Homo sapiens: one gene and its partners. The protein of the gene in region 3 purifies or fractionates together with the protein of the main gene of each other region. This does not show direct contact. Each region holds a gene or a part of one and is shown on either strand. Other genes may lie near its edges. The genes, in order: WWC1, ZMYM2, ARRDC1 and HECW2.

Evidence for each region.
Region 1: the proteins of ARRDC1 (region 3) and WWC1 purify together in Homo sapiens (affinity purification with mass spectrometry; 4 studies listed by BioGRID and IntAct, with this or other methods). This does not show direct contact.
Region 2: the proteins of ARRDC1 (region 3) and ZMYM2 purify together in Homo sapiens (affinity purification with mass spectrometry; 5 studies listed by BioGRID and IntAct, with this or other methods). This does not show direct contact.
Region 4: the proteins of ARRDC1 (region 3) and HECW2 purify together in Homo sapiens (affinity purification with mass spectrometry; 5 studies listed by BioGRID and IntAct, with this or other methods). This does not show direct contact.

Annotation. Positions count from the first base shown.
Region 1 is NC_000005.10:168,420,624-168,427,646, forward strand, and holds part of WWC1 (protein KIBRA), read left to right. Parts: intron 1-1,384; coding exon 1,385-1,474; intron 1,475-2,909; coding exon 2,910-3,445; intron 3,446-7,023. UniProt on the Homo sapiens protein: Regulator of the Hippo signaling pathway, also known as the Salvador-Warts-Hippo (SWH) pathway.
Region 2 is NC_000013.11:20,059,725-20,066,747, forward strand, and holds part of ZMYM2 (zinc finger MYM-type protein 2), read left to right. Parts: intron 1-1,328; coding exon 1,329-1,500; intron 1,501-3,121; coding exon 3,122-3,247; intron 3,248-4,726; coding exon 4,727-4,821; intron 4,822-7,023. UniProt on the Homo sapiens protein: Involved in the negative regulation of transcription.
Region 3 is NC_000009.12:137,600,818-137,608,696, forward strand, and holds the start of ARRDC1 (arrestin domain-containing protein 1), read left to right. Parts: upstream 1-4,868; 5' UTR 4,869-4,900; coding exon 4,901-5,018; intron 5,019-7,879. UniProt on the Homo sapiens protein: Functions as an adapter recruiting ubiquitin-protein ligases to their specific substrates. Through an ubiquitination-dependent mechanism plays for instance a role in the incorporation of SLC11A2 into extracellular vesicles.
Region 4 is NC_000002.12:196,317,549-196,324,571, reverse strand, and holds part of HECW2 (E3 ubiquitin-protein ligase HECW2), read left to right. Parts: intron 1-1,951; coding exon 1,952-2,094; intron 2,095-4,132; coding exon 4,133-4,233; intron 4,234-4,646; coding exon of another isoform or gene 4,647-4,667; coding exon 4,668-6,020; intron 6,021-7,023. UniProt on the Homo sapiens protein: E3 ubiquitin-protein ligase that mediates ubiquitination of TP73. Acts to stabilize TP73 and enhance activation of transcription by TP73. Involved in the regulation of mitotic metaphase/anaphase transition.

The DNA of each region.
Region 1 (7,023 bases), on a different chromosome or scaffold from region 3:
CCATAATAGAGCTCTTCTCTTCCCCCGGGATCCTCTGCCTCAGCCTTTTCCTCTTAGCAGATGCCATCTGCAGGGCCACTTGGCTGCCCGTAGCAGTAACCGCACAGTCTTCCACATTTACTCCCTCAGCCTCAGCTGCTCCTGCAGCCCAGGCACTGTCTCTGTCTCTGCATTGCTCAAGCCTCCACCATCTCGGTTACACCTCACAGCCACCCTCCCCGCCTTCAGTCTTCAGCCTCCTGCCCATTGTCCTCCCCACAGTCATGGTGACCTCAAGATGATAAGGTCTTTGCTAAAGCCCCTGCTTGGAATGTTCTTCCCTCCTGCACTTTTCCTAGCCAACTGCTGTCCATTATCCATCCTTAAATTTCTCTACTAGTCAGGAATCTAACTGCTGCAAGAAACAGCCCCCAAAGTCTCCGTGGCTTCATACAACGGGTTTATTTTTTGTTCATATAATGTCTAATTGGGTATGTCCAGTTAACAGGCAGCCTTCCATGTGGTCATTCAGGAACTCAGGCTCTTTCCATCTGTGACGCCTCCCCTTTGAGTCCACAAGAGTCCATGCAACAGACAGTAAAGAAGACACACACACTTTTCTTAACTACTAGTGCTCACATCCCATTGGCCAGAACTTGGTCATACGCCCTGCCCACCCGGCCACAGGGAAGGCTGGGAAAATGGTGGAGGCAGGGTACACACCACCAGTCTCAGCCACAGAGTCACTTGACTGGAAGAGGCTCACCTGCCAGTTCAAATTGGGCCTCTCCTTTTGTGTTCTTTTCTACCATTTGTACTTTTTCTTCATGGACCTTGTCACACACTGTGTTAATTAGATATTTGAGTATTTCTTTAATATCGGTTCTCCCCAGTAGAATGTAAGCCCTATAAGAACAGAAACAAGTCCTACTGTGCTCACTCACTACTTTATCCCCAGTGCCACAGGCAGGGTCCAGTACAAAACGGGCATTCAGTAAATATGAGCTGAAAGATGGAGGAAGGAAGAGAAGGAGGGTATGGTTGGGTGAAATCCTAATTCTGCCACTAATTCCACAGCTTTAGGTAAATTATACAACTCTAAGGGCCTCGATTTCCTCTTATGTAAAGTGGTAAAAATCATTCTTACTATGCAGCATTATTGTGTGACTGAATTAAGGCAGTGTCCTAAGGTTCCCAGCAGAGTGCCTGATATATATATATAGTGGGTGAGTGATATTGCAGTTATCATAGGATTATAATATATGTGGAAGCTCTAGCTCCCCAGATGCCGTGGTCAAATGCTTTACGGAAAGTTCTTGTGCCTGTGGGTCTGGGTGTACATGGGTAAGAGTGCATGCCTGTGCTTCCTTTTGGTGCATCCCTCGCATGCTTTCTCTCCTTCCAGGTTAAAGTTAAACAGTAAGAGGAACCAGCTTGTGAGAGAACTGGAGGAAGCCACCCGGCAGGTGGCAACTCTGCACTCCCAGCTGAAAAGGTGAGTGGTGGGCGGTGAGGCCACTGCTCCCCTGGGCATGGCCAGACATGGGTGTCCCCAGTGTCCCAGCCCAGGCTCTACCCTTCACTTGTCCTCCGTGGCTTGAGAGTGGATGTTTAGAAGCATAGCAAATGGATTGTCAGCAGACTCGGGCGTGGCCTGGTGTAGCTAGGAATAGGGGTCTTGACCTCTCCAGACTGATAGCACAAAGAAGGCCCCAGGCAGGTAATAGGTAGTCTTAAGAGACTCGGCTGGGTGTCATGGCTCACACCTGTAATCCCAGCACTTTGGGAGGCCAAGGTGGGTGGATCGCTTCAGCTCAGGAGTTTGAAGCCAGCCTGAGCAACATGGCGAAACTAAAAATACAAAATTAGCTGGGTGTGGTGGTGCATGCCTGTGGTCCCAGCTACTCAGGAGGCTGAGGTGGGAGGATGACTTGAGCCCGGGAGGAGGCTTACCGTGAGCCGAGATTGTGCTACTGCACTCCAGCCTGGGTGATAGAGCCAGACCTTGTCTCCAAAAAGAAAAAAAAAGCCTTAGGAAACTCACACTGCCACCTACCTGCACAACACAGAGAATGTAGCCTCAGACCTGGGCCTCCATGAACAACAGTGCATCAGTGGAATTCAATAACATTTTGTTCCATTAGATTTTTTTCTAATGGTGGTCTTCTCTTTGTAGTAAGTGATACTGCTTTTCAAATTACACTTAGGATGTAAAGTTTCCTTTTAATATAGATGTTTTAAAGTATTAAAACAGTGAGTTGGGGCAGGCGTGGTGGCTTACGCCTGTAATCCTACCACTTTGGGAGGCCGACGCAGGCGGATTGCCTGAGCTCAGGAGTTCGAGACTAGCCTGGGCAACACGGTGAAACCCCCTCTCTACTAAAATACAAAAAATTAACCGGGCGTGGTGGCAGGTGCCTGTAGTCCCAGCCACTTGGGAGGCTGAGGCAGGAGAATTGCTTAAACCCAGGAGGCGGAGGTTGCAGTGAGCCGAGATCGCCCCACTGCACTCCAGCCTGGCGACAGAGCAAGACTCCATCCCCCCCCAAAAAAAAAAAAAAAAAAAAAAACACAGTGAGTTGATTTCAAGAAAGATATTAAGAAATCTTTATTACATAATGGATTCAACTATGAAAACATATCATACAAATGCAACGTAGCCAATTGGAGCTTTGGGAAACACAGATTTAGAGGAAAAAGTGGACTTTTAAGGCAGCTATAACTTGAGTCCAAAGCCCAGCTCTGCCATGTCTTGATTATGTGGCCTTCTTGGGGTATCAGTTTTCCATGAAGTGGGGGTGAAGGGTCTACCCTAGAGATTGCCAAGCAAGTCTAGTGAGATCATGGTGCTTTCCAGAGCTCAGCAGAAGGTCTCAGGGGGCCCACTTCACTGTGTGCATCTCACTGTCCTTCCCCTCCCTGTGTCCCAGTCTCTCAAGCAGCATGCAGTCCCTGTCCTCAGGCAGCAGCCCCGGATCCCTCACGTCCAGCCGGGGCTCCCTGGTTGCATCCAGCCTGGACTCCTCCACTTCAGCCAGCTTCACTGACCTCTACTATGACCCCTTTGAGCAGCTGGACTCAGAGCTGCAGAGCAAGGTGGAGTTCCTGCTCCTGGAGGGGGCCACCGGCTTCCGGCCCTCAGGCTGCATCACCACCATCCACGAGGATGAGGTGGCCAAGACCCAGAAGGCAGAGGGAGGTGGCCGCCTGCAGGCTCTGCGTTCCCTGTCTGGCACCCCAAAGTCCATGACCTCCCTATCCCCACGTTCCTCTCTCTCCTCCCCCTCCCCACCCTGTTCCCCTCTCATGGCTGACCCCCTCCTGGCTGGTGATGCCTTCCTCAACTCCTTGGAGTTTGAAGACCCGGAGCTGAGTGCCACTCTTTGTGAACTGAGCCTTGGTAACAGCGCCCAGGAAAGATACCGGCTGGAGGAACCAGGAACGGAGGGCAAGCAGCTGGGCCAAGGTAGAGAGCACCATACCCAGAGGGTGGGAACCAGGAGGAGGGAAAGAGATACTCTGTGCTCAGAACCCCCCAGTGATCATTCTAGTCGATATTTACTGACTGCTTCTGTGTGCTGGGTCTTTGTATGGCAAGTATATTTATTCAGTGGATGTTTATTAACTCAGTATTTTTGAGGTCCTGTGTGAAGGGTTTTCAGTAGTAGATTCTGTCCTCCAACAGACATTTAGCACCTCATAAAACTAAATGTCAGGTCATCCTGTGCTAATGGATATACATGGATTCATCTATTCATGATTATAGATATGCTGGGTGCCAGGCACTGGGTTGGTCACTAAGGATTCTGTGTTGAAGACAGACAGGGTCCCTGTTCTCATGAAGCTTATGTTCAAATGGAGGCACAGGGAATAAACCTGCAACCAAACAAGCACTACAAAGAAAATAAAACAGGGAATGTGATCCAGCCTTTCTGGTTAGAGGTGGGACTGCCAGGGCAGGTTGGGTTGTGAAAGAAGATGACATTTGAGGGTGTCTTGAATGGTGAGATGGAGCCAGCCTTGGGAAAAGCAAGAGCAAAATCTCTGAGGTCAGAGCAAGGGACTAGAAGGGGAGCCAGGAAGCCATGAGTCAGAGGTAGGGGGTTACCAGTGAGGCTGGAGAACTAGGCAAGAGTCCAGATCCTGAAAGGCCTGGTGGGCTGTGCTAAGGAGTTTGGATTTTATCCTAATTGCACTGGGGACCCATGTGACCGTTTGAAGCCAGGAATGATATGATCTGACTCCCATTCTGCATGGGGTCAGAAAGAACATTTTGGTGTTGGCCGGAATTTAAGTTGGAATCTTCAAAATAGAAGATGATGCTGACATTGACAGCTAAGATTTATTAGGAGAAAACCTTTTTATCTTTAGCAGCAACCACATAATAAATCATAATAGTTAACTTTTATTGGGGATATATTATGAGTTGGGTAATGTGCTTGATACATGGTGAAATCAGTTATTTCTATTCTGTCCATTTCACTGGTGAGGAATTGGAGATTCAGAGAGGTGATGTCACTTGCCTTAGGTCACCCAGCCAACAAGTGAGGAAGCAGGGATAGGAACCTGAGTGTTTCTGGCCCCGGAACCCAACCCCCTTATTGTCATGCCTTAGGCTGGGAGGCAGTTCAGCATGCACATTCATGCCAACTCCTGGTGCTTGGGGCCCCACCAACCCCATCTGGCTCTGGGTGTGAAGGTCAGGACTGAGTAGGATGCTCAGTAAACTCACCTGGGCCTTCTTGGCTTTCCTGGCCACAGTAAAAATAGCTCACAATAATCATAGCTATGATATATAGCGTACAGGTGTTTAGGATTTAGGTACTTCTCTGCATATTTACTCATTTAAGCCTTACAACACCTCTGGGAAGTGGGTGCTATTTTTAATCTCCTTTTTTTTTTTTTTTTGAGATGGAGTCTCACTCTGTCACCCAGGCTGGAGTGCAGTGGCACCATCTGGCTCACTGCAACCTCCACCTCCTGGGTTCAAGCGATTCTCCTGCGTCAGCCTCCCGAGTAGCTGGAATTACAGGTGCACATCACCATGCCTGGCTAATTTTTTTTTTTTGTATTTTTAGTAGAGGCGGGCTTTCACCATGTTGGCCAGGCTGGTCTCGAACTCCTGACCTCAGTTGATCCACCCACCTTGGCCTCCCAAAGTGCTGGGATTACAGGCGTGAACCACCAAGTCCAGCCCCTTTTATCCCCATCTTAAAGATGAAAAAAGTGAGGCACAGTGAGGTTAAAAGACTTGTCTGAGGTTAGTCCCACAGAGTGAAATGGCAAGACCAGGACTGGCACAAGGACCACCTGCTCAGAACGCACACTGTTATCCATGTGCTGAGTTCTGTCTACAAAAAGCTGGTGCTCCTGGCTCCAGGTGAGGCCAGCTAGAAGCAGCCAGACCCATGTCAGCTCTGTGGCTCCAGGCATGGGCAGGAGTGGTGCTGCTGTGCCCAGAATTATCCATGTGTGTACAAGGGCCAGTGGGAGCATGGTAGGGAAATGAGGTTTCCTTGTTAACGAAAGGCTTTGAGTGCCAGTGGTTTCCTTAGAAGAGGAGCCGAGAGATCCCTGGGTTTCCCTCATCAGGAAGGGAGTCTTGCTGAGTGCTCTCAAAATAAAAGCAAGCGCCCTACTATAGCAGGTGGCAAGCCTCAGAAAATTGTTCCCTGGAGAGGAGGGGGTGCAGGTGGAACCTCTAACAAGGCTCAAAGAGCATGCCTCTGATATCAATATTAAGCCAAGTCAGGACACTCAGACCCCAGCTATGTCCTGTGAAGTGACCCCCTCCTCTCCCCTCCCTAACAGTGTCTTTGGGGCTTGTGGGCCTCAGACAGCACATTAGGCTGGGCACACACAGGTCTCGGGATGGCATTTCCTTCATGCCATCTCCAGAAGCCTTCCCTGCAGCAAGCAATGCCAGGCAGAGCTTAGACGCTAAGCAGGTTATGTGATTAGTGCCGCTGTTCAGTCAGCAGACAAATTAATCTCCTTAAGTGGTTTAGTGGAGGGTGGAGATGCGTGGGTCTGAAAGCAGGAGGTCTCCGCGGGCTCAGCAGGCATGGGACGCAGGCTCAGCTTCCCCATCACCAGCACTTGCAGTCTCCCAGACCCGCCTTGTCACCCATCGCCGTCCCCGGCCTGCCATGCCCTGGACTCTGTGCCCCTCAATGCTGCGAGCCCTTGCCCTGCTCCGGTCTGCCCGCAGGTGCTCAGAGGTGTTAGCTGTGAGGTTGTAAGATCTGGATCTGGCCTTCCCCGCTGCAAGGAGGGCAGGAATTGTCTTATTCATCTTTGTAGTTCTGAACATGGCAATGGGCCTGGCACATCGTGAGTGATCATTACTTGGGCAAGGAAGGAATGTGCAGCACGTGTTGAGTGCTTAGTTATGAGCCTCAGATCAGAGACTTTCAAGGGCCCCTGTTAAGGTTAGGGAAGAGGAGGAGCTGAATTCGGAGTGGAAAGGGATAGGCAGTGGAAGAACGGGTGCTTAATCTCTCCCTTCTCTGTCCTGAGGGTCCAGGGGCTGTTATTTTGCCCCAGGTGGGTAGGGATGGATCTGTTAGGTTGATGCAAAAGTAATTGCAGTTTTTGCCATTGAAAGTATGGATATCTACAGTGATAGGAACAGTAGTGGCAATAAGGATAGTTGTAATGAGTTTTGCAGAGCACTTTGCCTGCCTGCACCAATCTCTATATTAAGGACTTCCCTTATAATGTCTCGCTGAGTCCTGTCAACAGCCCTATAAGTAGGTATTATTATCCAAGTTTTACAAATGAGGCATCTGAGGCTTAACAGGATTAAGTCAGTATCTCAAGGTCATGAAGCAGTGAGTGGTGGAGCCGGATTTGAATCCAGGCAGTTCGACTCAAGAGCCTGGGATGGTAAAACACAAAATCACATGTGACTCCTTCCATCACCCTAAAGCAAACTTTTTTTTAATTTTTTTTTTTTTTTTTTTTTTTTGCTTTAGCATTTAGAGGTGGTTGGAATTTGGTGGAACCGTCTGTCTTCCATAGAGAGTGTATCAAAATTGGGAG
Region 2 (7,023 bases), on a different chromosome or scaffold from region 3:
GGCAGGTTCCACATCCGTGACCAAACACAGACTGAAAATACAGTATTCTGCCTGTAATCCCAGCACTTTGGGAGGCTAAGGTAGGCGTATCTTCAGCCCAGGAGTTCAAGACCAGCCTGGGCAACATGGTGACACCCTGTCTCTACTAAAAATGTAAAAATTAGCCAGGCACAGTGGCATATACCTGTAATCCCAGCTACTTGGGAGGCTGAGGTAGGAAGATTGCTTGAGCTTGGGAGATGGAGGCTGCAATGAGCCGTGATTGCACCACTGCACTGCAGCCTGGTCTACAAAGCAAGTCCTTATCTCAAAAAAAATGAAAATAAAAAATTATTTGAGGATGTGAAATCTGTGTAGAAGGCTGACTGTAGGGGTGTGGAACTTGAGTATGCATAGACTTTGGTATCCATCCACAGGTGGTCCTGGAACCAATCCCCTAGAATACTGAGGATAACTCTAGTTGCAGTTACTAGTTTAATGAAGCTAATAAAACCATCTTTACCTTTCTTCGACAGTTAACTTAGATTTGGTTGAATCTCTGTTGTCATGATTGATTGCTTTGTGTATAGTATGTATATGTTCATCCTCGAGAGTGACATTTCGCGGATGTCTGTGCCTGCTCTGTGCATATTAAGTTTATATTTGGGTTCATTTTCAAAAGGAATATTTGTGGGCCATGTGCAGTGGCTCACGCCTGTAATCCCAGCACTTTAGGAGGCTGACATGGGCAGATCACCTGAGGTCAGGAGTTCAAGACCAGACTGGCCAACATGGTGAAACCCCCTCTCTACTAAAAATACAAAATTAGTTGGGCATGGTGGCACATGCCTGTAATCCCAGCTGCTGGGGAGGCTGAGGCAGGAGAATCGCTTGAACCCGGGAGGCGGAGGTTGCAGTGAACTGAGATAGCGCCATTGCACTCCAGCCTGGGCAACAAGAGTGAAATTCCATCTCAAAAAAAAAAAAGAAAAATATTTGTGAAGCCATAAGGTTTAGAACTGAAACATAGAATTTCATATAAAATATTATTTTATCCCAAATCACTTGCAGTACTTAGAAGAACACTGTGTCAGGGCTTGGCTATTATAGTCCCCTGGGGGACAGAAATACTTCAAAAATTCTTTTTCTTTAATTTGAATTCCAAAAAGTAGATGCTTGTATTCTAGGCTTTCTTATCACAGTTAACATCTTAGTTTTGTATGTGTTCTTTTCAAAGCTTTTATCCAGTGTGATATTACAAAGTAGATCATGTGTCAGAGTAATTTTTAATTTGGAAAAATACCTTTTAATGTTTAGTAAACCTAACTCAAAATGATTTGGTTAATTAGGTGCCAGTTCCTGTTTTTCTGCCTGCTCCATTGGACAGCAGTGAGAAGATTCCTGCAGCAATTGAGGAGCTAAAAAGCAAGGTTTCTTCAGATGCTCTTGATACAGAGTTGCTTACAATGACGGATATGATGAGTGAAGACGAGGGGAAAACAGAGACAACCAACATCAACAGTGAGCTACACTAAATTATACCTTGCGAATAAGTGTTAACATTGGTTATTTATAAGTATTGTTACAGTACTTTCCAGGGCATATCATTTTGTTTCAACTTATGTGGGGGTGAGGAAAGCATTGTAACAAAAATGTTTTTTATATTAAGAGATCTACACTGTATTTAGCCAGGTGCCCTCAGACAGATATCCGAAGCAGGAATTTGGTCTTTGGTCTCTGTTTTAAGCAGGATTTGACTTGTAAAATCAACTCAAAATTATTCTTGTTAATGGAGTAGTGCTGATGCAAAACTATAATAACTTGTAGTAGACTCTAATGATGATCAAAACTCTTATTTTGTAATAGTTATCCCTAGTTTTTTGTTTTGTTTTGTTTTTTTTTTTAGATGAACTCTTGCTCTGTTGCCCAGGGTGGAGTGTAGTAGCATGATCCCGGTTCACTGAGATCTCTGCCTCCTGGGTTCAAGCTATGCTTCTGCCTCAGCCTCCTGAGTAGCTGGAATTACAGGCACGTGCCACCACGCCCAGCCAATTTTTGTCTTTTTAGTAGAGACAGGGCTTCCCTATGTTGGCCAGGCTGATCTCAAACTCCTGACCTCAGGTGATCCACCTGCTTCCCAAAGTGCTGGTATTACAGGTGTGAGCTACCACACCCAGCCCCTAGTTTTCTTTTATTGCTTATACTAATAAAATAATTTGCATTATCTAAACCAGAGTTTATCTTAACCTCTGTTAGGGCAGTGCTTGCGCTACATGGTATAACGTGATGAGTGTGTTGTGGATGGTTCTAAGTCACTTAGAATATTTATTTTCCACCCTTAACCCTCTCTTGATACCCAAAGTCCTATTTCAACCTTGAGCTAATTCTTACCCTTACCCTAGAGGACAATCAAAATACTATAATTTTCTCTGGATTTAATAATGAGACAGTGTTTTTGAAGCACTGTGGTAAGGAGTTGTGAAATTAGTGGGTTGCAACCAGTGTTTTTGTTTAAGAAAAGAAAAAGCTAAGTGGAATAGGGTAAGAGAAATGACAGTGTGAATCCCTCATAGAAAGGGTAAGTATTATTTTGTGAAACCAGTGTGTATACAGATGTCTTTCTGTTCCCCACCATCACCTTGCAGTATGTGCTGGATAAAATGCATTTCTTGCCATGATTACAACACAAAAACACTTGAAAGCAACTGATCGAACCATTAAAAGGCAGTTGTTAATATGCATATATTGAACAATCTGAGAAACCTGGGTCAAAATTCAAAGAGTATTGAAAACTACAGTTGTCTACCCTCATTAGTTTATTTTTGACAAAAAGTTGCTTTTAGAAATACTTTACTTGTTGAAGTTGTTTTACTATCAAAGCATACCTATTAGCTTTTGAAGGGAGTCCTCCTGTAAAATTTATAGGATTAAAAGTTTTCATGTGCTTGTGACTAATTATGAGGTTTATAGTGGTTTACATTTTGAGATAGTTATATATATAATATGCCCTTTTCTTTTGTGACATTATACGTATTTTTTTATATTGCATTTAAAATTAAATGACTTGCTTTTGCCAGATTAAATACAGATACCATTGGGGTTTTCTGTTTTGATTCCTAATGATAATATGGATTGATTTCAGGTGTAATTATTGAAACAGATATAATTGGTTCAGACCTTTTGAAGAACTCTGACCCAGAGACACAGTCCAGCATGCCTGATGTACCATATGAACCAGATTTGGATATCGAAATAGATTTTCCCAGAGGTACTCAAAACCTTTATGACTATGGAATTTAGTTATGGAGTCAACTGTGGTTATGATCATTTACCATTTGATGTTTGTGTCATTGCCTTTTAGCAGTGTTCATATTTTTTATTCTTGTTATTTTTTAAACTCACCTTAAGAGTTAACTTCATATTTTGTTGTTGTTTTTTTTTAAAAACCCACCTTAACAGTTAACTTCTGGAATGAGATCACTTGAGTCCAGGAGTTCAAGACCAGCCTGGGCAATGTGGTGAAACACTGTCTCTACTAAAAATATAAAAATTAGCCAGGCGTGGTGGTGCATGCCTGTAATCCCAGCTACTCGGGAGGCTGAGGCAGGAGGATTGCTTGAGCCCAGGAGGTAGAGGTTGCAGTGAGCCGAGATTGTGCTACTGCACTCCAGCTTGGGCAGCAGAGTGAGACCCTGTCTTTAAAAAAAAAAAAAAAAAAAAAAATTCTAGAAGTAATTCATTATAGAAAGTTTAAAGAAGTGTTTGTGTCCTTTTTAATTTAAAAATGTTGTTAGCATCTGGGTGCGGTGGCTTATGCCTGTAATCCCAGCACTTTGGGAGGCCGAGGTGGGTGGATCACCTGAGGTCAGGAGTTTGAGACCAGCCTGGCCAACGTCGTGAAACCCCGTCTCTACTGAAAATACAAAAATTAGCTGGGCGTGGTGGTGAGTGCCTGTAATCCCAGCTACTGGGGAGGCTGAGGCAGAATTGCTTGAACTCAGGAGGCGGAGGTTGCAGTGAGCCAAGACTGCACCATTGCACTCCAACCTAGGCAACAAGAGCAAAACTCTGTCTCAAAAAATATATATATATAAAAAATATATAATATATATAATACATAAATATAATTTTATATATTATATACATCATGATGTATATAATATATAAATATATACAATATATAATATAAATATAATTTTATATATAATATATATTTTATATATATTATATAGTTTTTATATATATAATATATATAGTTAGCTTTTTTTTAAGATCCTTTGAAAATTAAGTTCACCTTCAAAGGAAAAATTATTTTCAGGTCTTTTGTAAAATAAGTGTGCCCCATTTTTCATTATTTTCTTAATCCATGGATGGCTAATGAGCACACTGAGTAGAATGTAAAACATTAGTTTTTGGAAAAAACATTTAATAGATTGAATCAGATTTGTACCAAGACCATTTAGATCTTGTAATTGGATTTCAGACTATAATAATTTTTCTGGTATCATACATTTTCATGAAAATTTTATGTTGATATTCATTTTATATATGTTTTTAGGAGTTTGAACAGTGTTTGTCAGAATTCACAAACCATGTTAGGTACAATGAGTCATTTACTCCCCAGCCCAGCCTAGATTGTCCCCATGTATGAATGCTGGTTTACATCCTGTGGTTAGTTCTTTGTTGGCTGTGTTTATGTAACCCTGTGCTATTTCATTTAAAATAAAAGTTCTGATTTGGTTGTCAGCTGCTGAGGAGCTTGATATGGAAAATGAATTTTTATTACCACCTGTTTTTGGCGAAGAATATGAGGAACAGCCCAGACCTCGATCTAAAAAAAAGGTACATTCACTTAATAGCCTATATAACAATATTTCTCTATAGGCAAACAAGGATACAGTGTTCTTTTAGTGTGCCTGAGAATATGGGAACATATTTTGTTTTCTAGGTTGGAAAATAATTTATTTTCTATTTATATAGAATATAGTAATAATATATTACTGCTATTTATTACTATTATTTATTACTATTTCTATTTGTATAGAAATAGTAATTATTACTATTTCTAGTAATAATAGTAGTAATAATTTATTTCTAGTAATAATTTATTACTGTTTCTAAGTAATAAAAATATCTCAGATTTAGTTGATACCTCAACTAAACTTGTATTGATACAAGGTCAAAATAGAAAACAGTTGCTAAAGTAGTAAGTTCAATTATTTGACAAAAATTTAGACTGTTTTCTAGGGAGCTGTTTTTTCCACGATTATTTCTGATGAGATGATCAGTGGGGTTGAAGTACACAGTTTATTATTTCTGGTCTCTTTTAGGCATACCAACACACATAGAAAGACATGCTGGACAGTTTGATCATTCAGGTAGACCAAATCTACATGCATTAACAAGTGTAATTGTTATAATATTCTGTCAACTTTCTGTGTTTCTGACTTCCAACATAAAGCAGGTTTTAAAAATACCTTAAGAAAGATAGCTTTCACAAATTGTCCCCAAAAGAAAGAAAAAAAACCGGAAAAGGGAGAGAATACTTGGAGTGGAATGAAGGTGGACTTCTGCTTGACACCAAACACAACAATTAACTCAAAATGAGCCATAGACCTAAATGTAAGAGCTAACAATATAAAACTCTTAGAAGAAAACATAGGCCTAAATCTTAATGGCCTTATGTTAGGCAGTTTCTTAGGTAAGATACCAAACGCACAGGGAAGAAAAGGAAAAATAAATAAATAAACTGGACTACATCAAAATTAAAAACTTTTGCATTGCAAACAGTGCCATCAGGAAAGTGAAAAGGGGGCCAGGCACAGTGGCACCTGTAATCCCAGCACTTACAGCACTCAGGAAGGCTGAGGCGGGAAGATTGGTGGAGCCCAAGAGTTTGAGACCAGCCTGGGCAACATAGTGAGACCTCTACAAAAACTAAAAAATAAAAACCAGCCAGGCATGGTGGCACGTGCCTGCAGTCCCAGCTACCCAGGAGGAGGATCGAGGCTGCAGTGAGCTATGATCGTGCCACTGCACTCCAGCTTGGGCAACAGAGCAAGACCTCTCCTCAAAACAGAACTCCAGCATGGATACTTACCTGGCAGGGGAGATACCGTGATTACAAAACTCTAGCATGGGTGACAGAGCAAGGCCCTGTCTTAAAAAAACAAAAATAAAACAATAAAATAAAAAAGTGAAAAGTACTTAAGTGTCACTCTCTATAAGGTGGAGTTGTTGAAAAGTTCTTCAGTTTCTGTTACAGTAATATTTAGATTATTAGTTTATTGTCTTATATTTATTTTCTCATCATTGGTGACTCTCACCACAGAATTTAATATGATTTTGTTGCACAAAGTGATTTATGTAGAAACATCACATTTCCTGGAATATTAATTGACTGTTGTCAGATTCAGGAATACCAGTCAGTTCAAAGCAAATACCTATATTTCATTTTTTCTTTTCTAATTTCATGACACATTAAACAAATAACTATATTTTTATGACAGATTAAACAGATAACTATATTTGTAATTACAGATGACCGTTGTACAATGCAGTGGTTGGGCTCTGATCCCCCCTGCACAGTCACAAATTTGTGTATAACTTTTGACTCCCTAAAAAGTTAAGTACTAGTAGCCTACTCTTCACTGAGCCCCCCTGCACAGTCAAAAATTCATGTATTACTTTTGACTCCCTAAAAAGCTAACTACTAGTAGCCTACTGTTGACTGGAAGCCTTGCTGATAACAGTTGATTAACACATATTTTATATGCTACATACTGTATTTTTATAATAAAGTTAGCTAGAGAAAATGTTATCAAGAGAATCATATGGGAGAGAAAATATATTTACGATTCATTAGGTGGAAATAGATCATCCTCATTGTCTTCAAGTTGAGTAGGCTGAGGAGGAAGAGGAGAGAGGTTGATCTTGCTGTCTCAGGTGGCACGATTGGAAGAGGTAGAAGGAGGTTGGAGAGGCAGGCACACAGAAAAACATACGTGTCCAAGTGGACCCCTGCAGTTCAAACCCATGTTGCTC
Region 3 (7,879 bases):
CAAAAATAATAATAATAATAATAATAATAATAATAATAATAATAAACCACCCCAAAACTTAGTGGCTTTAAACAACTATGTATTTTCTCATGATTCTGTAGTTTAGGATGGGCTTAGCTGGTTGGTTCTGCTGTTGTTGGCTAGGGTGGTAGGTTGTGTCAATTGTCACCATCAAATTCTCCCCTCCACGTGAATGTGTGTTGCTCCTATGACTTTCTTTTTTTGTTTGTGTTGTTTGTTTTGAGATGGAGTCTCGCTCTGTCACTAGGCTGGAGTGCAGTGGCGCAATCTTGGTTCACTGCGACCTCCACCTCCCGGGTTCAAGCAATTCTCCTGCCTCAGCCTCCCGAGTAGCTGGGACTACAGGCACGTGCCACCACGCCCAGCTAATTTATATATATATATATATATATATATATATATATATATATATATATATATATTTTTTTTTTTTTTTTTTTTTTTTTTTTTTTTGAGATGGAGTCTTGCTCTGTCACCCAGGCTGGAGTGCAGTGGCGCGATCTCGGCTCACTGCCAGCTCCGCCTCCCGGGTTCACACCATTCTGCTGCCTCAGCCTCCCGAGTAGCTGGGACTACAGGCACCCGCCACCACGCCCGGCTAATTTTTTGTATTTTCAGTCGAGATGGGGTTTTACCATGTCAGCCAGGATGGTCTCGATCTCCTGACCTTGTGATCCACCCGCCTCGGCCTCCCAAAGTGCTGGGATTACAGGCGTGAGCCACCACACCCGGCCTAATTTTTGTATTTTTAATAGAGGTGAAGTTTCTCCATGTTGGCTAGGATGGTCTCGATCTCTTGACCTTGTGATCCACCCGCCTCAGCCTCCCAAAGTGCTGGGATTACAGATGTGAGCCACTACACCCAGCCTTGACTGTTTTTGTTTTGTTTGATTTTGAGATGAAGTCTCACTCTGTCACCCAGGCTGGAGTGCAGTGGCGTGATCTCAGCTCACTGCAACCTCCCCCGCCGAGCTCAAGTGATTCTCCTGCCACAGCCTCCTGAGTAGCTGGGATTACAGGCACGTGCCACCACGCCTGGCTAATTTTTGTATTTTTAGTAGAGATGAGGTTTCACCATGTTGGCCAGGCTGGTCTTGATCTCCTGATCTCAAGCGATCTGCCCGCCTCGGCCTCCCAAAGTGCTGGGATTACAGGCATGGACCACTGCGCCCAGCCTGTTTCATTGCAATTCTTCCAGTTAACGCAAGCTGTGGGCCAGCCTAGGTTCCAGGGGAAGCCCCCCGGTGGGAAGAGCAGCAGGGATGCAAAGGTGGGCGGGATCTTTGAGGAGGGACCACCACGCCCTAGGAAGGAGACTGCTGAGGTAGAGGAGGGTTTTGGAGGAGGAACCATGAGACTGACACGTGTTTACCACACTTTTCTTTTCCCTCCCTCCCTTCCTTTTTTTTTTTTTTTTTGAAATGTAGTTTCACTCTTGTCGCCCAGGCTGGAGTGCAATGGCCCAATCTTGGCTCACTGCAACCTCCACCTCCTGGGTTCAAGCGATTCTCCTATCTCAGCCTCCCGAGTAGCTGGGATTACGGGCGTGTGCCACCACCATGCCCGGCTGATTTTTTTTGTATTATTAGTAGAGATGGGATTTCACCATGTTGACCAGGCTGGTCTTGAACTCCTGACCTCAGGTGATCTGCCCACCTCGGCCTCCCAATGTACTGGGATTACAGGCAGAGCCATTGCGCCCGGCCCACACTTTTCCTTTTCTGTATGTTATTATGCTTTGACATCTTGGGGGCTTTACTAGTCAGGGAGATGCTGCCCCTTCCAGGGCTGGCTAATCCCCAGAGCTAGCAAACAACTTTATAAACACCAATCCAGAGCCCATATCCCCAGTCTCTTCCTGATCTGACTCTCACACCCCAAGCCAGCATTTCTCCTGCCCTGCATCCCCCAGGGACAGATACCAGACGGCTAGAGCCCCCTGCTGTGACCTAGAGTCTGCTGACATGATTCAAGCTATCTAATCCTAAACTTGCTCACACTTACCTACCCTGCCTTGTCCATTTTCACCCTGAGGAAAACACAAAAAAGGCTCTGGGTCATGCTCTCTCCTGGCTCCTCCTGACCCTGGTACTTCCCCTTCTGGCCCTGCGTGGCATGGCAGGGCCCCTCCTCCTGAGAACCACGAGTACTAAATCCTTCCTTTGTGGCACTTGTCTTCTAGTCTGTCACTTTACTATACCTGATTCAAACAAAACCCAGGTACTTTTAGGATATAGGGCAGGAGGCTGGAAGGATTGCCTGTGTGGATTCAGAAGCACTGAGTTTCCACACTTGGAGATGGAGGGAATGACAGTGAGTTAGGAGCTAAAATCACCAAGAAATGAAGATGCCGACCAGAGCGAAGGTGGTGCTGGTGATTCTGAGACCAGGAAGCTTACACATGGTAGCTCCCAGGGTGGAGAATGGCCTGGTAGTGTTAGGAAGGAGCCAGGAGGGCCCCAACCCCACCTACAGACCCAGAGGTAGAGGGATCCTGCGAAAAGATATCTCTACACCCGAAAGCTCCAGGGGAAGCCAGGTTTTCATGAGAGTGCAGCTAGAAGTATGCTTGGAGAAGAAGAGTCTAATGACAGGGCGGTTGGTGCTGGTGGTGGTTTCTGGAACACAGGATGGGTGGGAGATAGGGTCAGAATCAAGGATGTGCAGAGTCCTGTGGGGCTTAGATTGTGGCTGACCTGGGATAAAGGCCACCTGTGTTCTGTGTCCATTGTCTTCCATCTCAGTAGCTTGCAATACAGTCTGTCTGTCCCTTGCTTGAAACACTTTCTTTTTTTTCTTTTTCTGTTTTTTTTTTTTGAAATGGAGTCTCACTCTGTTGCCCAGGCTGGAGTGCAGTGGCGTGATCTTGGCTCACTGCAAGCTCCGCCTCCTGGATTCACGCCATTCTCCTGCCTCAGCCTCCCAAGTAGCTGGGACCACGGCGCCTGTCACCACGCCCGGCTAATTTTTTTTTTTCTTTTTGTATTTTTAGTAGAGACGGGGTTTCACCATGTTAGCCAGGATGGACTCGATCTCCTGACCTCGTGATCCGTCCACCTCGGCCTCCCAAAGTGCTGGGATTAGAGGTGCGAGCCACCGCGCCCGGTGAAACACCTTCTTTCTGACTTCTGGCATGGCCGACTGCCATTCGGGAGGGCTGTCCACAATCCTTGCCATCCCATGGCACCCTTCTCTCTTGTTCGGGAATTCTGCCTGTGCATAGCCTTGGCAGGAAAGTGTCTGGAGCATGGCCAGTTAGACCCACCTCCGGAAACATCGGAATCCTAAGGGAGTGAGCTGGGCCTGGGGCTTCAGGGCCTCTCCCAGCCTGGCCCGGGGGCCCCTCCAGCCTGTGAGCCCCTTTCTCTTTGCTGGGGTGCCAGACTCCTCCTCCCTGACCTGTTACCTTCTACCAACTAGGGATGGCAACATTTTAGTGCTTGACTCCCAGGCTCATGCACGGAAGTACTTGGTCCATTGGGGATCAGTGGCACCTCAGACTCTGCATGTGATGACCCTCCCACCCCCAAACCATGTGTATCTAGGTCCGTCCTCCCCATCAGAGAAGGCCACCCTCTTCACCGGCTGTCCTAGAAAAACTCGCAGCACTGGGGCCCGCACACCCACTCCGTGGTGAGCTGGTCCTTGTCGAGCGACGCCTTCCCTCTCCAGGACTACCCAACCGGTCTCTCCCGCCTTAGGTCCCCTGGGTATTTGAGTCCCACCCCCCGCGGCTCACTCTCTACAAAGGGACCCTTTAAAAAAGATAAATGGGAGTGTGTTCCTCCTGGTTTCAAGTGATCCAAGTCCTCGCCCCACCTGGCCCCCGACCCTTCTGCTGCGGACCCCTGCCCAAGGGCCTCCGCCCAAGTGTGGCTCCCTTGGGCCCACACCCCATCAGGCCAGCAAGGAGGGGGATAGCGGGGGGCGGGGCAGGTGCTGGGACTCCGGGCAGGTGCGGGGAAGGCAGGGGGCGGGGGGGGAAGGGGTTGGGCGATGCAGGTGTTGGGGGCCGGGACAGTTGCGGGGGTAGGCAGGTACCGGGAAGGCGGGAGGGCGGGCAGGTTCCGGAGGGGCGCGACAGGTGCTGGGACGCGAGGTAGGTGCGGAGAAGGTTGGGGGTGCGGGGCAGGAGCCGGGGGTGGGGGTTGAGGCGGGGCAGGTCCTACGCGGCGGAGCATCCCCGCCCAGGACGCCCGCGCGGCCCCGTGACGTTTTTCCGCGACTCGGGGTGAGGGAGACCCCTGGGCGGGACGGGCGGAGGGTGGGGGCGGAGGAGTGGGTTCTGCCCGCAGCAGAGTGCAGCGGGGAGACCTTCCCAGTCTCAGAGCTCGCCTCGGCCCCGCCCCCAGCCCTGCCCCCCGACGGAGACGCGGCGGTGACTCCCTCCGTGGGGGACGCACGGGACGCTTGCGCCTCAAGTCCCTTAAGCGGCGCCCGACGCAGCGCAGCACCTACCCAGCCGGGACAGGGCCAGGGCCGGGGATGGATGAGCGCGGCCGGGGGGCGGGGCAGGGGTGGGGCGGCCGAGGCAGGGGCGGAGCTGGGAAGGCGAGGCAGGGGCGAAGGGCGGGGGCGGGGCGAGGAGGCTGTCAGAGGGGCGGGGAATAACGAGGGGGCGGGGCCACACGGACGGATGGGGCGGGGAATAGGGGCTGGGCCGGGCCTCCGAGCGGCAGTCCGCGGGCTACGGGGCGGCCGGGGGGCTGGGCGGGGCCGTGGGGCGGGGCAGGGCCTGGGAGGGGCCGGATGGGGGTGGAGGCCGGGATTGGGACGGATGGGGGCGGGGCATAGGAGGGGGCGGGGCCGGGCCTCGGAGCCGGGACTCGCGGGCGGCGGGCGGGGGCGTCGCTGCGCGGCTGGCCGGTGAGGCCGCGGCATGGGGCGAGTGCAGCTCTTCGAGATCAGCCTGAGCCACGGCCGCGTCGTCTACAGCCCCGGGGAGCCGTTGGCTGGGACCGTGCGCGTGCGCCTGGGGGCACCGCTGCCGTTCCGAGGTGGGCGCGGGTCCTCGGGGAGGGCCTTTGGCCGCACCTGCGCGGGGCCAGGGCTCCCGGAAGCGGCTGCCGTCGCCTGGCCCCGGGTTGGGCCCGCGGAGTCGCTGTCTTCGCCGCCCGGGACTGCTGGGAAGCGGGCTCGGCGGCGCCGGGGAGGTCCGGGCGGCGCCGCCCTTCCGCGTCTGCCCTTCCTGCCCTCTCGCCGAGGGGCGGCGGGGTCCCGGCGGGGCCTGAAGCGGGTCCACTGTGGAGGACGCCCTGAGCGCGGGCGCACGCAGGCCTGCGACCCTCCCCGTCCGCGCTCGCACCTGCTGGGCTCCTTCCCGCACCCTGGCTCCCGGCGCAGGCGCTCCCGCTGCAGAGCCGCTCCTGGCGCGGGCGTGCGGTCCCGGCGGGGTGCAGACACCTGCTGCGGCTCCCTGCGCCCCCTGCCACCCGCCAGCAGGCCTCGCCGGCCCCCCGCCGAGGTGGACGCCTGGGCCTCGGGGACTGGGTATCGGGTTGCTGCAGTGGCCGCTGGCAGGGCGCCCTGGAGGTGAGGGCCGGCCCGCGAGGTGAGGCTGCCTCTGCCCGGCCCTTGGCTGTGAGTGCCGCGTCCCTGCCGGGGACTTCTCTACCTTGGCCTCCTGTGGGAACCACCTGGGCTGCTTGGCCTGTGCCACAGCCCCTGGACTTGCCGCTGGACCTTGACCGCTGGGCCCGCGCGTGGGTAACAGCACCGATTTTGTGCCTGCTGAGAACCCACAGTCTCTGTTCTGTCCTCTCAGCCTCCTGGGACAGGTGATGGTGCTGTGGCCCTGACCCTGCACCGCCTGAGGCTGTGGGGCCTCGGAAGAAGCCGGGTGGTAGGTGCTTCTGTCAGGCTCCTGGCCCCACTGGGCCTCCTGGGATGACCCCACAGCCTCCCTTCCTCTGTCCCAACCTTGAGTTTGGGGTCTGGGTGGGGGCAGGTGTGGCCGTGGCAGGGCAGAGATAGCACACACATCTCTTGGGTACAGGTGTGGTGTGTGGTGAGGCCGGCTGGATCCTGGTTGAGGGCTGTGCAGGACCCTGTCGTCCTTCCCCTGGCGTGGCCTGGGGTGAGCAGGCCATTGCTTACCACAGGGAAGGGACGGCCCCGCGGTGCGTGACTGGCCTGGGTGTGCAGGCTCCCCTGGCCTCCGGGTGGACGTGGTGGGTGGGTTGAATGCTCACGCCTGTAATCCCAGCACTTTGGGCAGCTGGCCCAAGAGCCGAGGGAGCACTGGCTGATGGTCCTACCTCACAGAGGCTGGTCTGAATGAGGGAGAAAAAGGAGGGTCGTGAGCTAAGGAGTAGGAGATGGGCCCTGATGGGCCAGAGAGCACATGATTCAGGCTGCTGCAAGTGAGGTGGGAGGGTGTACCGGGGCCCCCGGGGGTTTCCCCCAGCCCTGCCTGGGATGGGAACAGAAGGACCATGGTTTCTTTTCCTCATTCAGAGGATGCTTGTCAATCCTGCTAGGAGCCAGTAGGGAGGCCCTCAGCCCCCAGGAGGACAGCAGCCCTGCCTGGGCCCCAGAGCTTGCTCACTTACTCTGCCGATGAGTGTCGGTGACAGTCAGCACCCAGCCGTGAGGACACCGGCTGTCTAAAGGGCTGACGCGGAGGGAGGCCTGGGAGGGAGCAGTTTTCTGGAGCTCAGGCTGGCCCAGTCCAGGGCTGGGGTTCAGGCAGGACCACTTCTTGTTCTGCTGTTACTGGGATGGGCGACCAGGGCCGACAGTGGTTCTCGGAGCACTCATGGTGGGCCCGATGCAATTCTCTCCACGTGCCACGGGCCAGCCTCAGTTAACCCTCAGCGCCCTGGCAAGTGGCACGGTTGTTACTCTCATGATACAGATTTGGAAACAGGACTGGGGGAGTGGCTTACAGGTCACAGCTTCTGTGGCAGGCGTGAGTCCTTTGGGATGAGGATGAGGAGTGGGTGGGTCTTCATGGTCCAAGTGCAGGTGGTGCAAGGGAGGGGCTGCTGAACAGGTGGGAGCCCCAGCTGGAGAAGAAAGTTCCAGTGGTCACTTGAGAACGCAGCCCAGTCATGATCTTCCTTAGAGTCAGAGAGGCCTGCAGCCTCCAGCAGCTTGTCCTTGCTTGTGCATCTGAACACAGGAAACATTTTTTATTTTTATTTTTTTAATTTATTTTTTCGAGACGGAGTCTCCCTCTGTCGCCCAGGCTGGAGTGTGCCGGCGCGATCTCGGCTCACTGCAAGCTCCGCCTCCCCGGTTCACGCCATTCTCCTGCCTCAGCCTCCTTAAGAGCTGGGACTACAGGCGCCCGCCACCACACCCGGCTAATTTGTGTATTTTTAGTAGAGACGGGGTTTCACCGTGTTAGCCAGGAGGGTCTGGATCTCCTGACCTCGTGATCCGCCCGCCTCGGCCTCCCAAAGTGCTGGGATTACAGGCGTGAGCCACCGTGCCTGGCCAGGAAACATTTTTTAAACCTGCATGGGGGAGGAGGGACAGGGCTTGCAGGGCCCCTGCAAAGAGGTGCAACGTTCAAGTCCAGAAGGCGGAAGAAGTCACACTCTGACTAGGGGACTGCCACTGAGCCACTCAGTCCTGCAGCCAAGCCCTGCCTGGTGGCTTTCCTGTTGCGAAAGGCTCGGTTCCCTTCAGCGTGTTCTGCCATCACAAGCAGTCTGCAAGCTGGAAAGAAGAGGGAGCGGGGTCGTATGCCGCCAGCAGCAGGGAGACCCCTCACAATGGACCCCATGTATTGCTCTGGCTTCTCCGTGGGCAGAACTGCATCCTGTGGTCCTGCCTGATTCGATGATTTGAAAAGGCAGAAACATGGCCGCTGCCATTGGCCTGGCCAGTGAAAACGGGCTCCCTGGGAAAT
Region 4 (7,023 bases), on a different chromosome or scaffold from region 3:
AAATTTTGATATTTTGTTGTAGCATACATTTAGTACAAATTAAAGGAATTTCTCTCTCTGCGGGCTTTGGCAAATGTTTTATGAATTTCTAGAGTTTTGTTAATTAGATGAGCCATTCAAGGAGTCATCATCCTGAGTGAAGCCAGATTGTGTTGATGGTATTTTAGACTTCCTCACAGCTACAGTATGCTACCAGTCATCTTAGTGCACCATATCAGTGAAATCAAGCAAAGGGTTTTCTCATTTGAACTACGGAAAGTCAAAGAATGAACAAATAGACACTTCTTATCTAGTGAGCAAAGCTTGAGCTCTCCCTCCATTTCTTGGAGATCTGAGGCATGTTTTACATAACTAGTGTGAAAATCTTTCTGGGCTGGCATAGGAGTTACACAGTTAATTAGATCATACCCTAAATATTTAATGACAACAATATGTTCTAACAATATTGTAGAAATATTTAATTGGAGAGAGGTATATCAGGGGATCTAAAACCGATTGCAGAAAAGATATAGTTATCTGAGACTTGCCAACACAGCAAGGCATTTCTCCTGGGCAGTTCCTATGGTTTTAGATATTGAATATTGCTTGTATTCTTACACTTGGTTTAAGAAACTACTAATGATCTCATCATGGTAAAAAAAAAAAAAAAAAACAAACAAAAAACAAAAAAAACTCTTAAGGGCATGCCACTTAGTCTAATGCATTTCAAAGCCTAGAAGAAATAAAAATATATCTCAATATGATTCTAGAAAGCACATAATAGATATGATAATGAAACAAGCAGTAACTATTTTCCTAACATTTTAAATTTGCAAAGTTTTTGACCATGTCACCAGTGCAAGCCTGAAAGGGAGGCACGAAGGATGAGATTATTATGTCTTCATTTTGGTGATTAAGAAATTGAAGCTTAAAGTGTTTATGGGACTAGCTATTCAGAGACAGAAGTGGGGATTAAACTCGGCTTTTTTATTCTAAGCAAGTACTTTTTTCCATTAAGCAGACTGCCAAATTGCTTGGCCCTTTGGAAAACCTTAATTGTTATGACTAGATAAACCTAGAGGCACCTAAGTGAAAAGTTGGCTAACACTATTCACATCACTATAGTTGCATGGATACTGTCAGGGAAGCAGTGAAATAATTTAGGTTAGATTCCTGGCACCATCATTTACTTATCCTGAGATTCTCATCTTCAAAAAGAAAGTTACATCGTTGTAAAGATAAAGTGAAGATAATATATGTAAAAGTCTCTGTGAGTAAAGCTCTTCATATTTATTTTATATCCTTATTAATGTCCGATCCAAATTTCCCCAGTGGCATTCTTAAAATGAAAACAACAAAAGCTATCTTAACCTCATACTTTTATTTTTCTGTCCCAGAAGAAATGACCCTGTATGCCTTTTAAACTTAAGGAAAAATTCCATTTAAACATTCTTTTAACATTTATCAGGGAAACCACAGTATTCTGCAGATGTTCCTATTTTAACCACTAAGTGGAGGAGTATTTTCAACTATGTTTTGCAACTTCAGAATTTCATGAGATTAGGAATTCAAATTGTCAATCAAATATACTAGTTAATTCTAATCCATTCTATAACAAGATATTAAATATCAAAGAATTGAGATACAATAAATGTAGGGAGTACTAAAATTGCATTGTGCATAACTTAATATTTGATAACATCTCCTAAAACTGTGAAACTAGGAAGGGCTGCATGATTGACTGAGAGGGCTTCTTTTGTCATACAGATCCTTGACTGCTGCTTTTTAATCATGGTGAATGCTAATCATTCTGAGTGAATAAAGGATTGACAATAGCTGCAGCTATTTCTAGCTATGTGGAACTCTGTATGTTGTTAGAATTTAAGAGATACCATTTCCTATACAAATAAAATGATATAGTATCATATTTGTCTTTCTTTTAAACCAGCATGTTATCTGTTTGTGTTTTCAGAAATATTCCTTTTTTGCACTTCTTACTGATGTCTTAGAAATTGAAATTAAAGACAAATTTGCCAAGAGCCGTCCCATCATCAAGCGTTTTCTGGGGAAACTAACCATTCCAGTCCAGAGGCTGCTGGAGCGACAAGCCATCGGGTAATCAGCCCTTACCTTTGGGGATCTTGTTGAGATTAGTTCATATAGGAAAAAATGACATGAAACTTGGTAGTCCTAGGACTTTTCATACTGATAAGAAGTAGTAACACAATTCTTTTAAAAATAAAAGTGTCCTTACACTTATTAAAATGTACTTGACAAAAAAGTAGTTTATTTTAATTATATATGTTTTTTGCGTCTTTATCTTTTCCAAGATGTACCCACTGTTAATATTTCAGTGTCAAATCTCATAGTGTTTGATTGTCTCTCAGTATATTGGAGCTTTTTATAAAAACTTCTCCCTGGGGCAGAATTCTTGGATCAGGTTGATGCCTACCTTATCCTAAATAATTCCATCCAGAGAACTTGTTACTCTTGAAAAACGGAAACAATCTTGTCTTGGAGCCATTTAAAACGAGACCTAGACTTGAAGAAGTGTTATAATAAAGCTCCTAGACATATACATTCATTCAAGCAACTAAAATTTATTCATTGACATTCTCTTAAAATTTAATGTGTAATTAATGTCTATTTTCTTTTTGTGAGCTTTTTGTAAGTTGTGAGTAAAGTAGTAAGTCATACTGAGGAGATAGAGAAGACCAAAAACAAGTTATGCAAATTAATAATGCATAGCTGACTAGAGGCTCTAAACTGTACAGTGGAGCAAAGAGTAGATAGAAGAAACATTGTATCTTCCTTCTGAAATAGCCATTAGAGGGCAGAGGTGGAGTGATTTGGCACTATCCTTTTGATGATTTTCCTTAATTAAGAATAAGTTGGCCGGGCACGGCAGCTCATTCCTGTAATCCCAGCACTTTGAGCGGACGAGGTGGGCAGATCACCCGAGGTCAGGAGTTCGAGACCAGCCTGGCCAACATAGTGAAACCCTGTCTCTACTAAAAATACAAAAAAATTAGCTGAGTGTGGTGGCGGGCACCTATAATCCCAGCTACTTGGGAGGCTGAAGCTGGGAGAATTGCTTGAACCCGGGAGGTGGAGGTTGCAGTGAGCCAACATTGCACCACTACACTCCAACCTAGGCAACCCGGGCAACAGAGCGAGACTCTGTCTCAAAAAAAAAAAAAAGAGAGAAAAAGAATAAGTCATTTAATTCAGAATAAGATTGTTACTTGTGTGCAGGAAAATGAAATGACTGCATTTGACTTTGATAAAGAAACAGACTTGAAACAGATGGAAAACTCCATCCTTCAGGAGGCAGACAGTCCAAGCCCGGGGCCCAGGCAAGGCAAAAACTAAACCTGCTTCCAGATCTGGGATATGACCCCACCACAGGGGCACATCTGGCTTTGCCAACCATCCCATCAGCACTGCTTACAAGGCACCCTGAGAATCAGTGATAGGCCAGGCTTCCCAGCAGGGAAGGCCAGCAGCTCCAGCCTCCTTACTCTACAGGTGAGGAAGGAGAGCTTAGCGGTCCTCTCCCCATCACACAGCCAGGGCTGCTGTCTTGGCTATGAAGGGCGCTTTCATTCTTGTGTTCTTGTGCTTCTCTCCCCTAAGTCCCAGCTCCTGTTCTTCAGGGCATAGCACAGTGCCCTACGTGCCATGTTGGGTGATAATCCTTAGCTGTGAGTGTCCTTTTAGAACCAGCTTTCTGTTGTGCTAAATGCCGAGGAACCAGGCTCTCTCCCCTTTTACACCCGAGTCAAAAAACCCCTAAAACTTGAGGCCTTTCACAACTCCTTTATGACCTTCAAAATGTCCTTTTCCTGGTCACCCTTAAAAGTGAGAGAGTGAATCAGTGTCCTTAAAAATATCACATAGCATATGATGTCTTGTGCTCGTAATAATAATTTTTCTTATGGCAACATTTCCTTTTATCTCCGGGTTTATAAGTGTTCCATTTGTATGAATGAATAATATTACATTGGACTATAATGGGCTTTGAGCCTTTAATGTTCTTGTGAGTCTGAAAGTTTTAAGAGAGATAGGAGGGATTTGGTGGGTGGCCTGTGGAAAGACGGCGAAGGCTGACTCCAGCGTAGTCAGGATGAAAGAAGCATTTCTCTTCTTGCAGTGATCAAATGCTCAGCTACAACCTTGGCAGAAGGCTCCCAGCTGACCACGTGAGTGGGTACCTCCAGTTTAAAGTGGAGGTTACGTCTTCTGTTCATGAAGGTGAGATATAAATATATCTGTATGAATACATTGCTATAGGAAAAACTTGTTAAACCTAACTCGATTGTCAGTTTGCTTCTGAACAGAATTGAATTCATGTTCTGTTTTGAAAGTAAAATAGCTGTCAAATAATTACCTGCTGAAATTTTCTAAGCAAGTAGGAAAGGCTGTTTGCCCAAAAATGTCTCTTAGATTGATGCCTGCATTTTGAAACTGGGCTGTAGAGTTTTCAGCCATGCTAACATACATAGCTCCTGTGCCAAGCTGACTAGCAGTCTCCTCATTTAGTAGTGAGTGGTGAATCTTAGCAAGTCAGTAGAAAGCCCTCAGAATGACTGATTTCTTTGAACTTATTGGTGGCAAAGCAAATAAGTCATAAAACGTTCACTTATTATTTCTGGTTAATTTTTTAGAAATGCTGTTTTCTCATTCAGATGCCTCTCCAGAAGCTGTTGGCACAATACTTGGAGTCAATTCTGTGAATGGAGACTTAGGTAGCCCTTCCGATGACGAGGACATGCCAGGGAGCCATCACGACAGCCAGGTGTGCTCTAATGGGCCAGTTTCTGAGGACAGTGCTGCCGATGGAACCCCCAAGCATTCATTCAGGACTAGCTCCACTCTGGAAATAGACACAGAGGAATTAACCTCTACGTCTTCAAGGACCTCACCTCCCAGAGGACGTCAGGATTCACTCAATGATTACTTAGATGCTATCGAACACAATGGCCACTCCAGGCCGGGGACAGCGACCTGCTCTGAGAGGTCCATGGGTGCCTCTCCGAAACTGAGGAGTAGTTTTCCCACTGACACAAGACTCAATGCCATGCTTCATATTGATTCAGATGAAGAAGATCACGAGTTCCAGCAAGACCTGGGTTACCCATCTTCCTTGGAGGAGGAGGGAGGCCTGATCATGTTTAGCAGGGCATCCAGAGCTGATGATGGAAGCCTGACATCTCAGACAAAGCTGGAGGACAACCCTGTTGAGAATGAGGAAGCCTCCACACACGAAGCTGCTTCCTTTGAGGATAAGCCAGAAAATCTTCCAGAGCTTGCAGAGAGCTCCTTACCTGCAGGCCCAGCCCCAGAGGAAGGTGAAGGCGGCCCAGAGCCTCAACCCAGTGCTGACCAGGGCAGTGCTGAACTGTGTGGCTCTCAAGAGGTAGATCAGCCCACAAGTGGCGCAGACACAGGGACTTCCGATGCATCAGGAGGAAGCCGAAGAGCCGTCAGTGAGACCGAGTCTCTCGATCAGGGCTCTGAGCCTTCCCAGGTGTCCTCTGAAACAGAACCCAGTGATCCTGCCAGGACAGAGAGTGTGAGCGAAGCCAGCACCAGGCCTGAGGGAGAGAGTGACCTGGAATGCGCTGACAGCTCCTGCAATGAGAGTGTGACCACGCAGCTGTCCTCTGTGGACACACGGTGCTCCTCTCTTGAGAGCGCACGGTTTCCTGAAACCCCAGCCTTTTCTTCTCAGGAGGAGGAAGACGGAGCCTGTGCAGCAGAGCCCACCAGCAGTGGCCCTGCCGAAGGGTCGCAGGAATCCGTGTGCACTGCTGGTTCTTTACCTGTGGTACAGGTGCCCAGTGGGGAGGATGAAGGGCCAGGGGCAGAATCGGCCACTGTACCTGACCAGGAGGAGCTGGGGGAGGTCTGGCAGCGGAGGGGGAGCCTGGAGGGAGCTGCAGCTGCTGCCGAGAGCCCACCGCAAGAAGAAGGCAGTGCTGGGGAGGCCCAAGGCACCTGTGAAGGGGCAACTGCCCAGGAGGAGGGCGCTACTGGAGGTAGGATATGGACACCACTGTGGCTCTTGGCTCGAGCGTAGCTGTGCAGAGAGAAGTTCTGTAGTTTTCCCCTCAATGTAAATAAGGCTGCAGGTTACATATGACCTGAATTCCTCACCTTGAGGTTCAGCAGGCAAGAAGAGAGGCAAGATTGAAAACAGGGCCAGGAAGAGAAGGAAACAGGTAACAAATGAGTGGGCAGCTGAAACCCTTCCTCTAGATTAGGCCTCCTGTTTCTGAGCGGGGAGACCTTGGGACTTAATCACATAGCTAGGAAGAAGGCAGCATGGTTTGCATCCAGATGGGCTTGAGTTCAAATTCAGTGCTCTTTTAAAAAATGGCTCTTCTGCTGCTGAAGTAACAGGCCTGTTAAACAGCAATCTTCAAACTTAAATAATGGGTCTCTATTGGAACCGGGGTTTGTAGATACACAACCAAACAGGCTGGCAGCTTCAACCTTAGTGTAATCTGCAAAGGTTATGAGAAACACCTAGCCACTCTTCCTTTCTAAAATTTCACAGTGGAAGATTAATGTATGCTATGCATCAAAGGTAGTGTTTTTGTCTTCTACAATTTAGGAATGTCAACTAAGTTAGGTGATGTCTTCTGACTTGGAGAATAAGCTGTTTTTGTATCCAAGGACACAAATTTACACCTGAAATTTGTATTACGCTCAGTGAATGCAGCTCTCTAGAATGATTCCTTTAATATGCCCTGTAAGGATGCATTAAAAATCAAAGAGCAATTTCATATGTCTGGCTGGCATAACTCAGAAATAGGAATGATTTTCTTTTTCTGTAATGTATTTTTCTACCTACATGATCCCCTTCTTTTCTTCCTCCTCCTTTTTTTTTTTAAATTTTGTTTCCTTCATTATATTGTAGCCACCATGTGACCCTAAAGCATTAGCGCATGACCAGGACAGAGGCCGTTATGGGTGAGGGATGAGGCAGGGGAAGCTGCAGGAGCGGGGGATACATGCAGAGGACATTTCTTCAGGAAG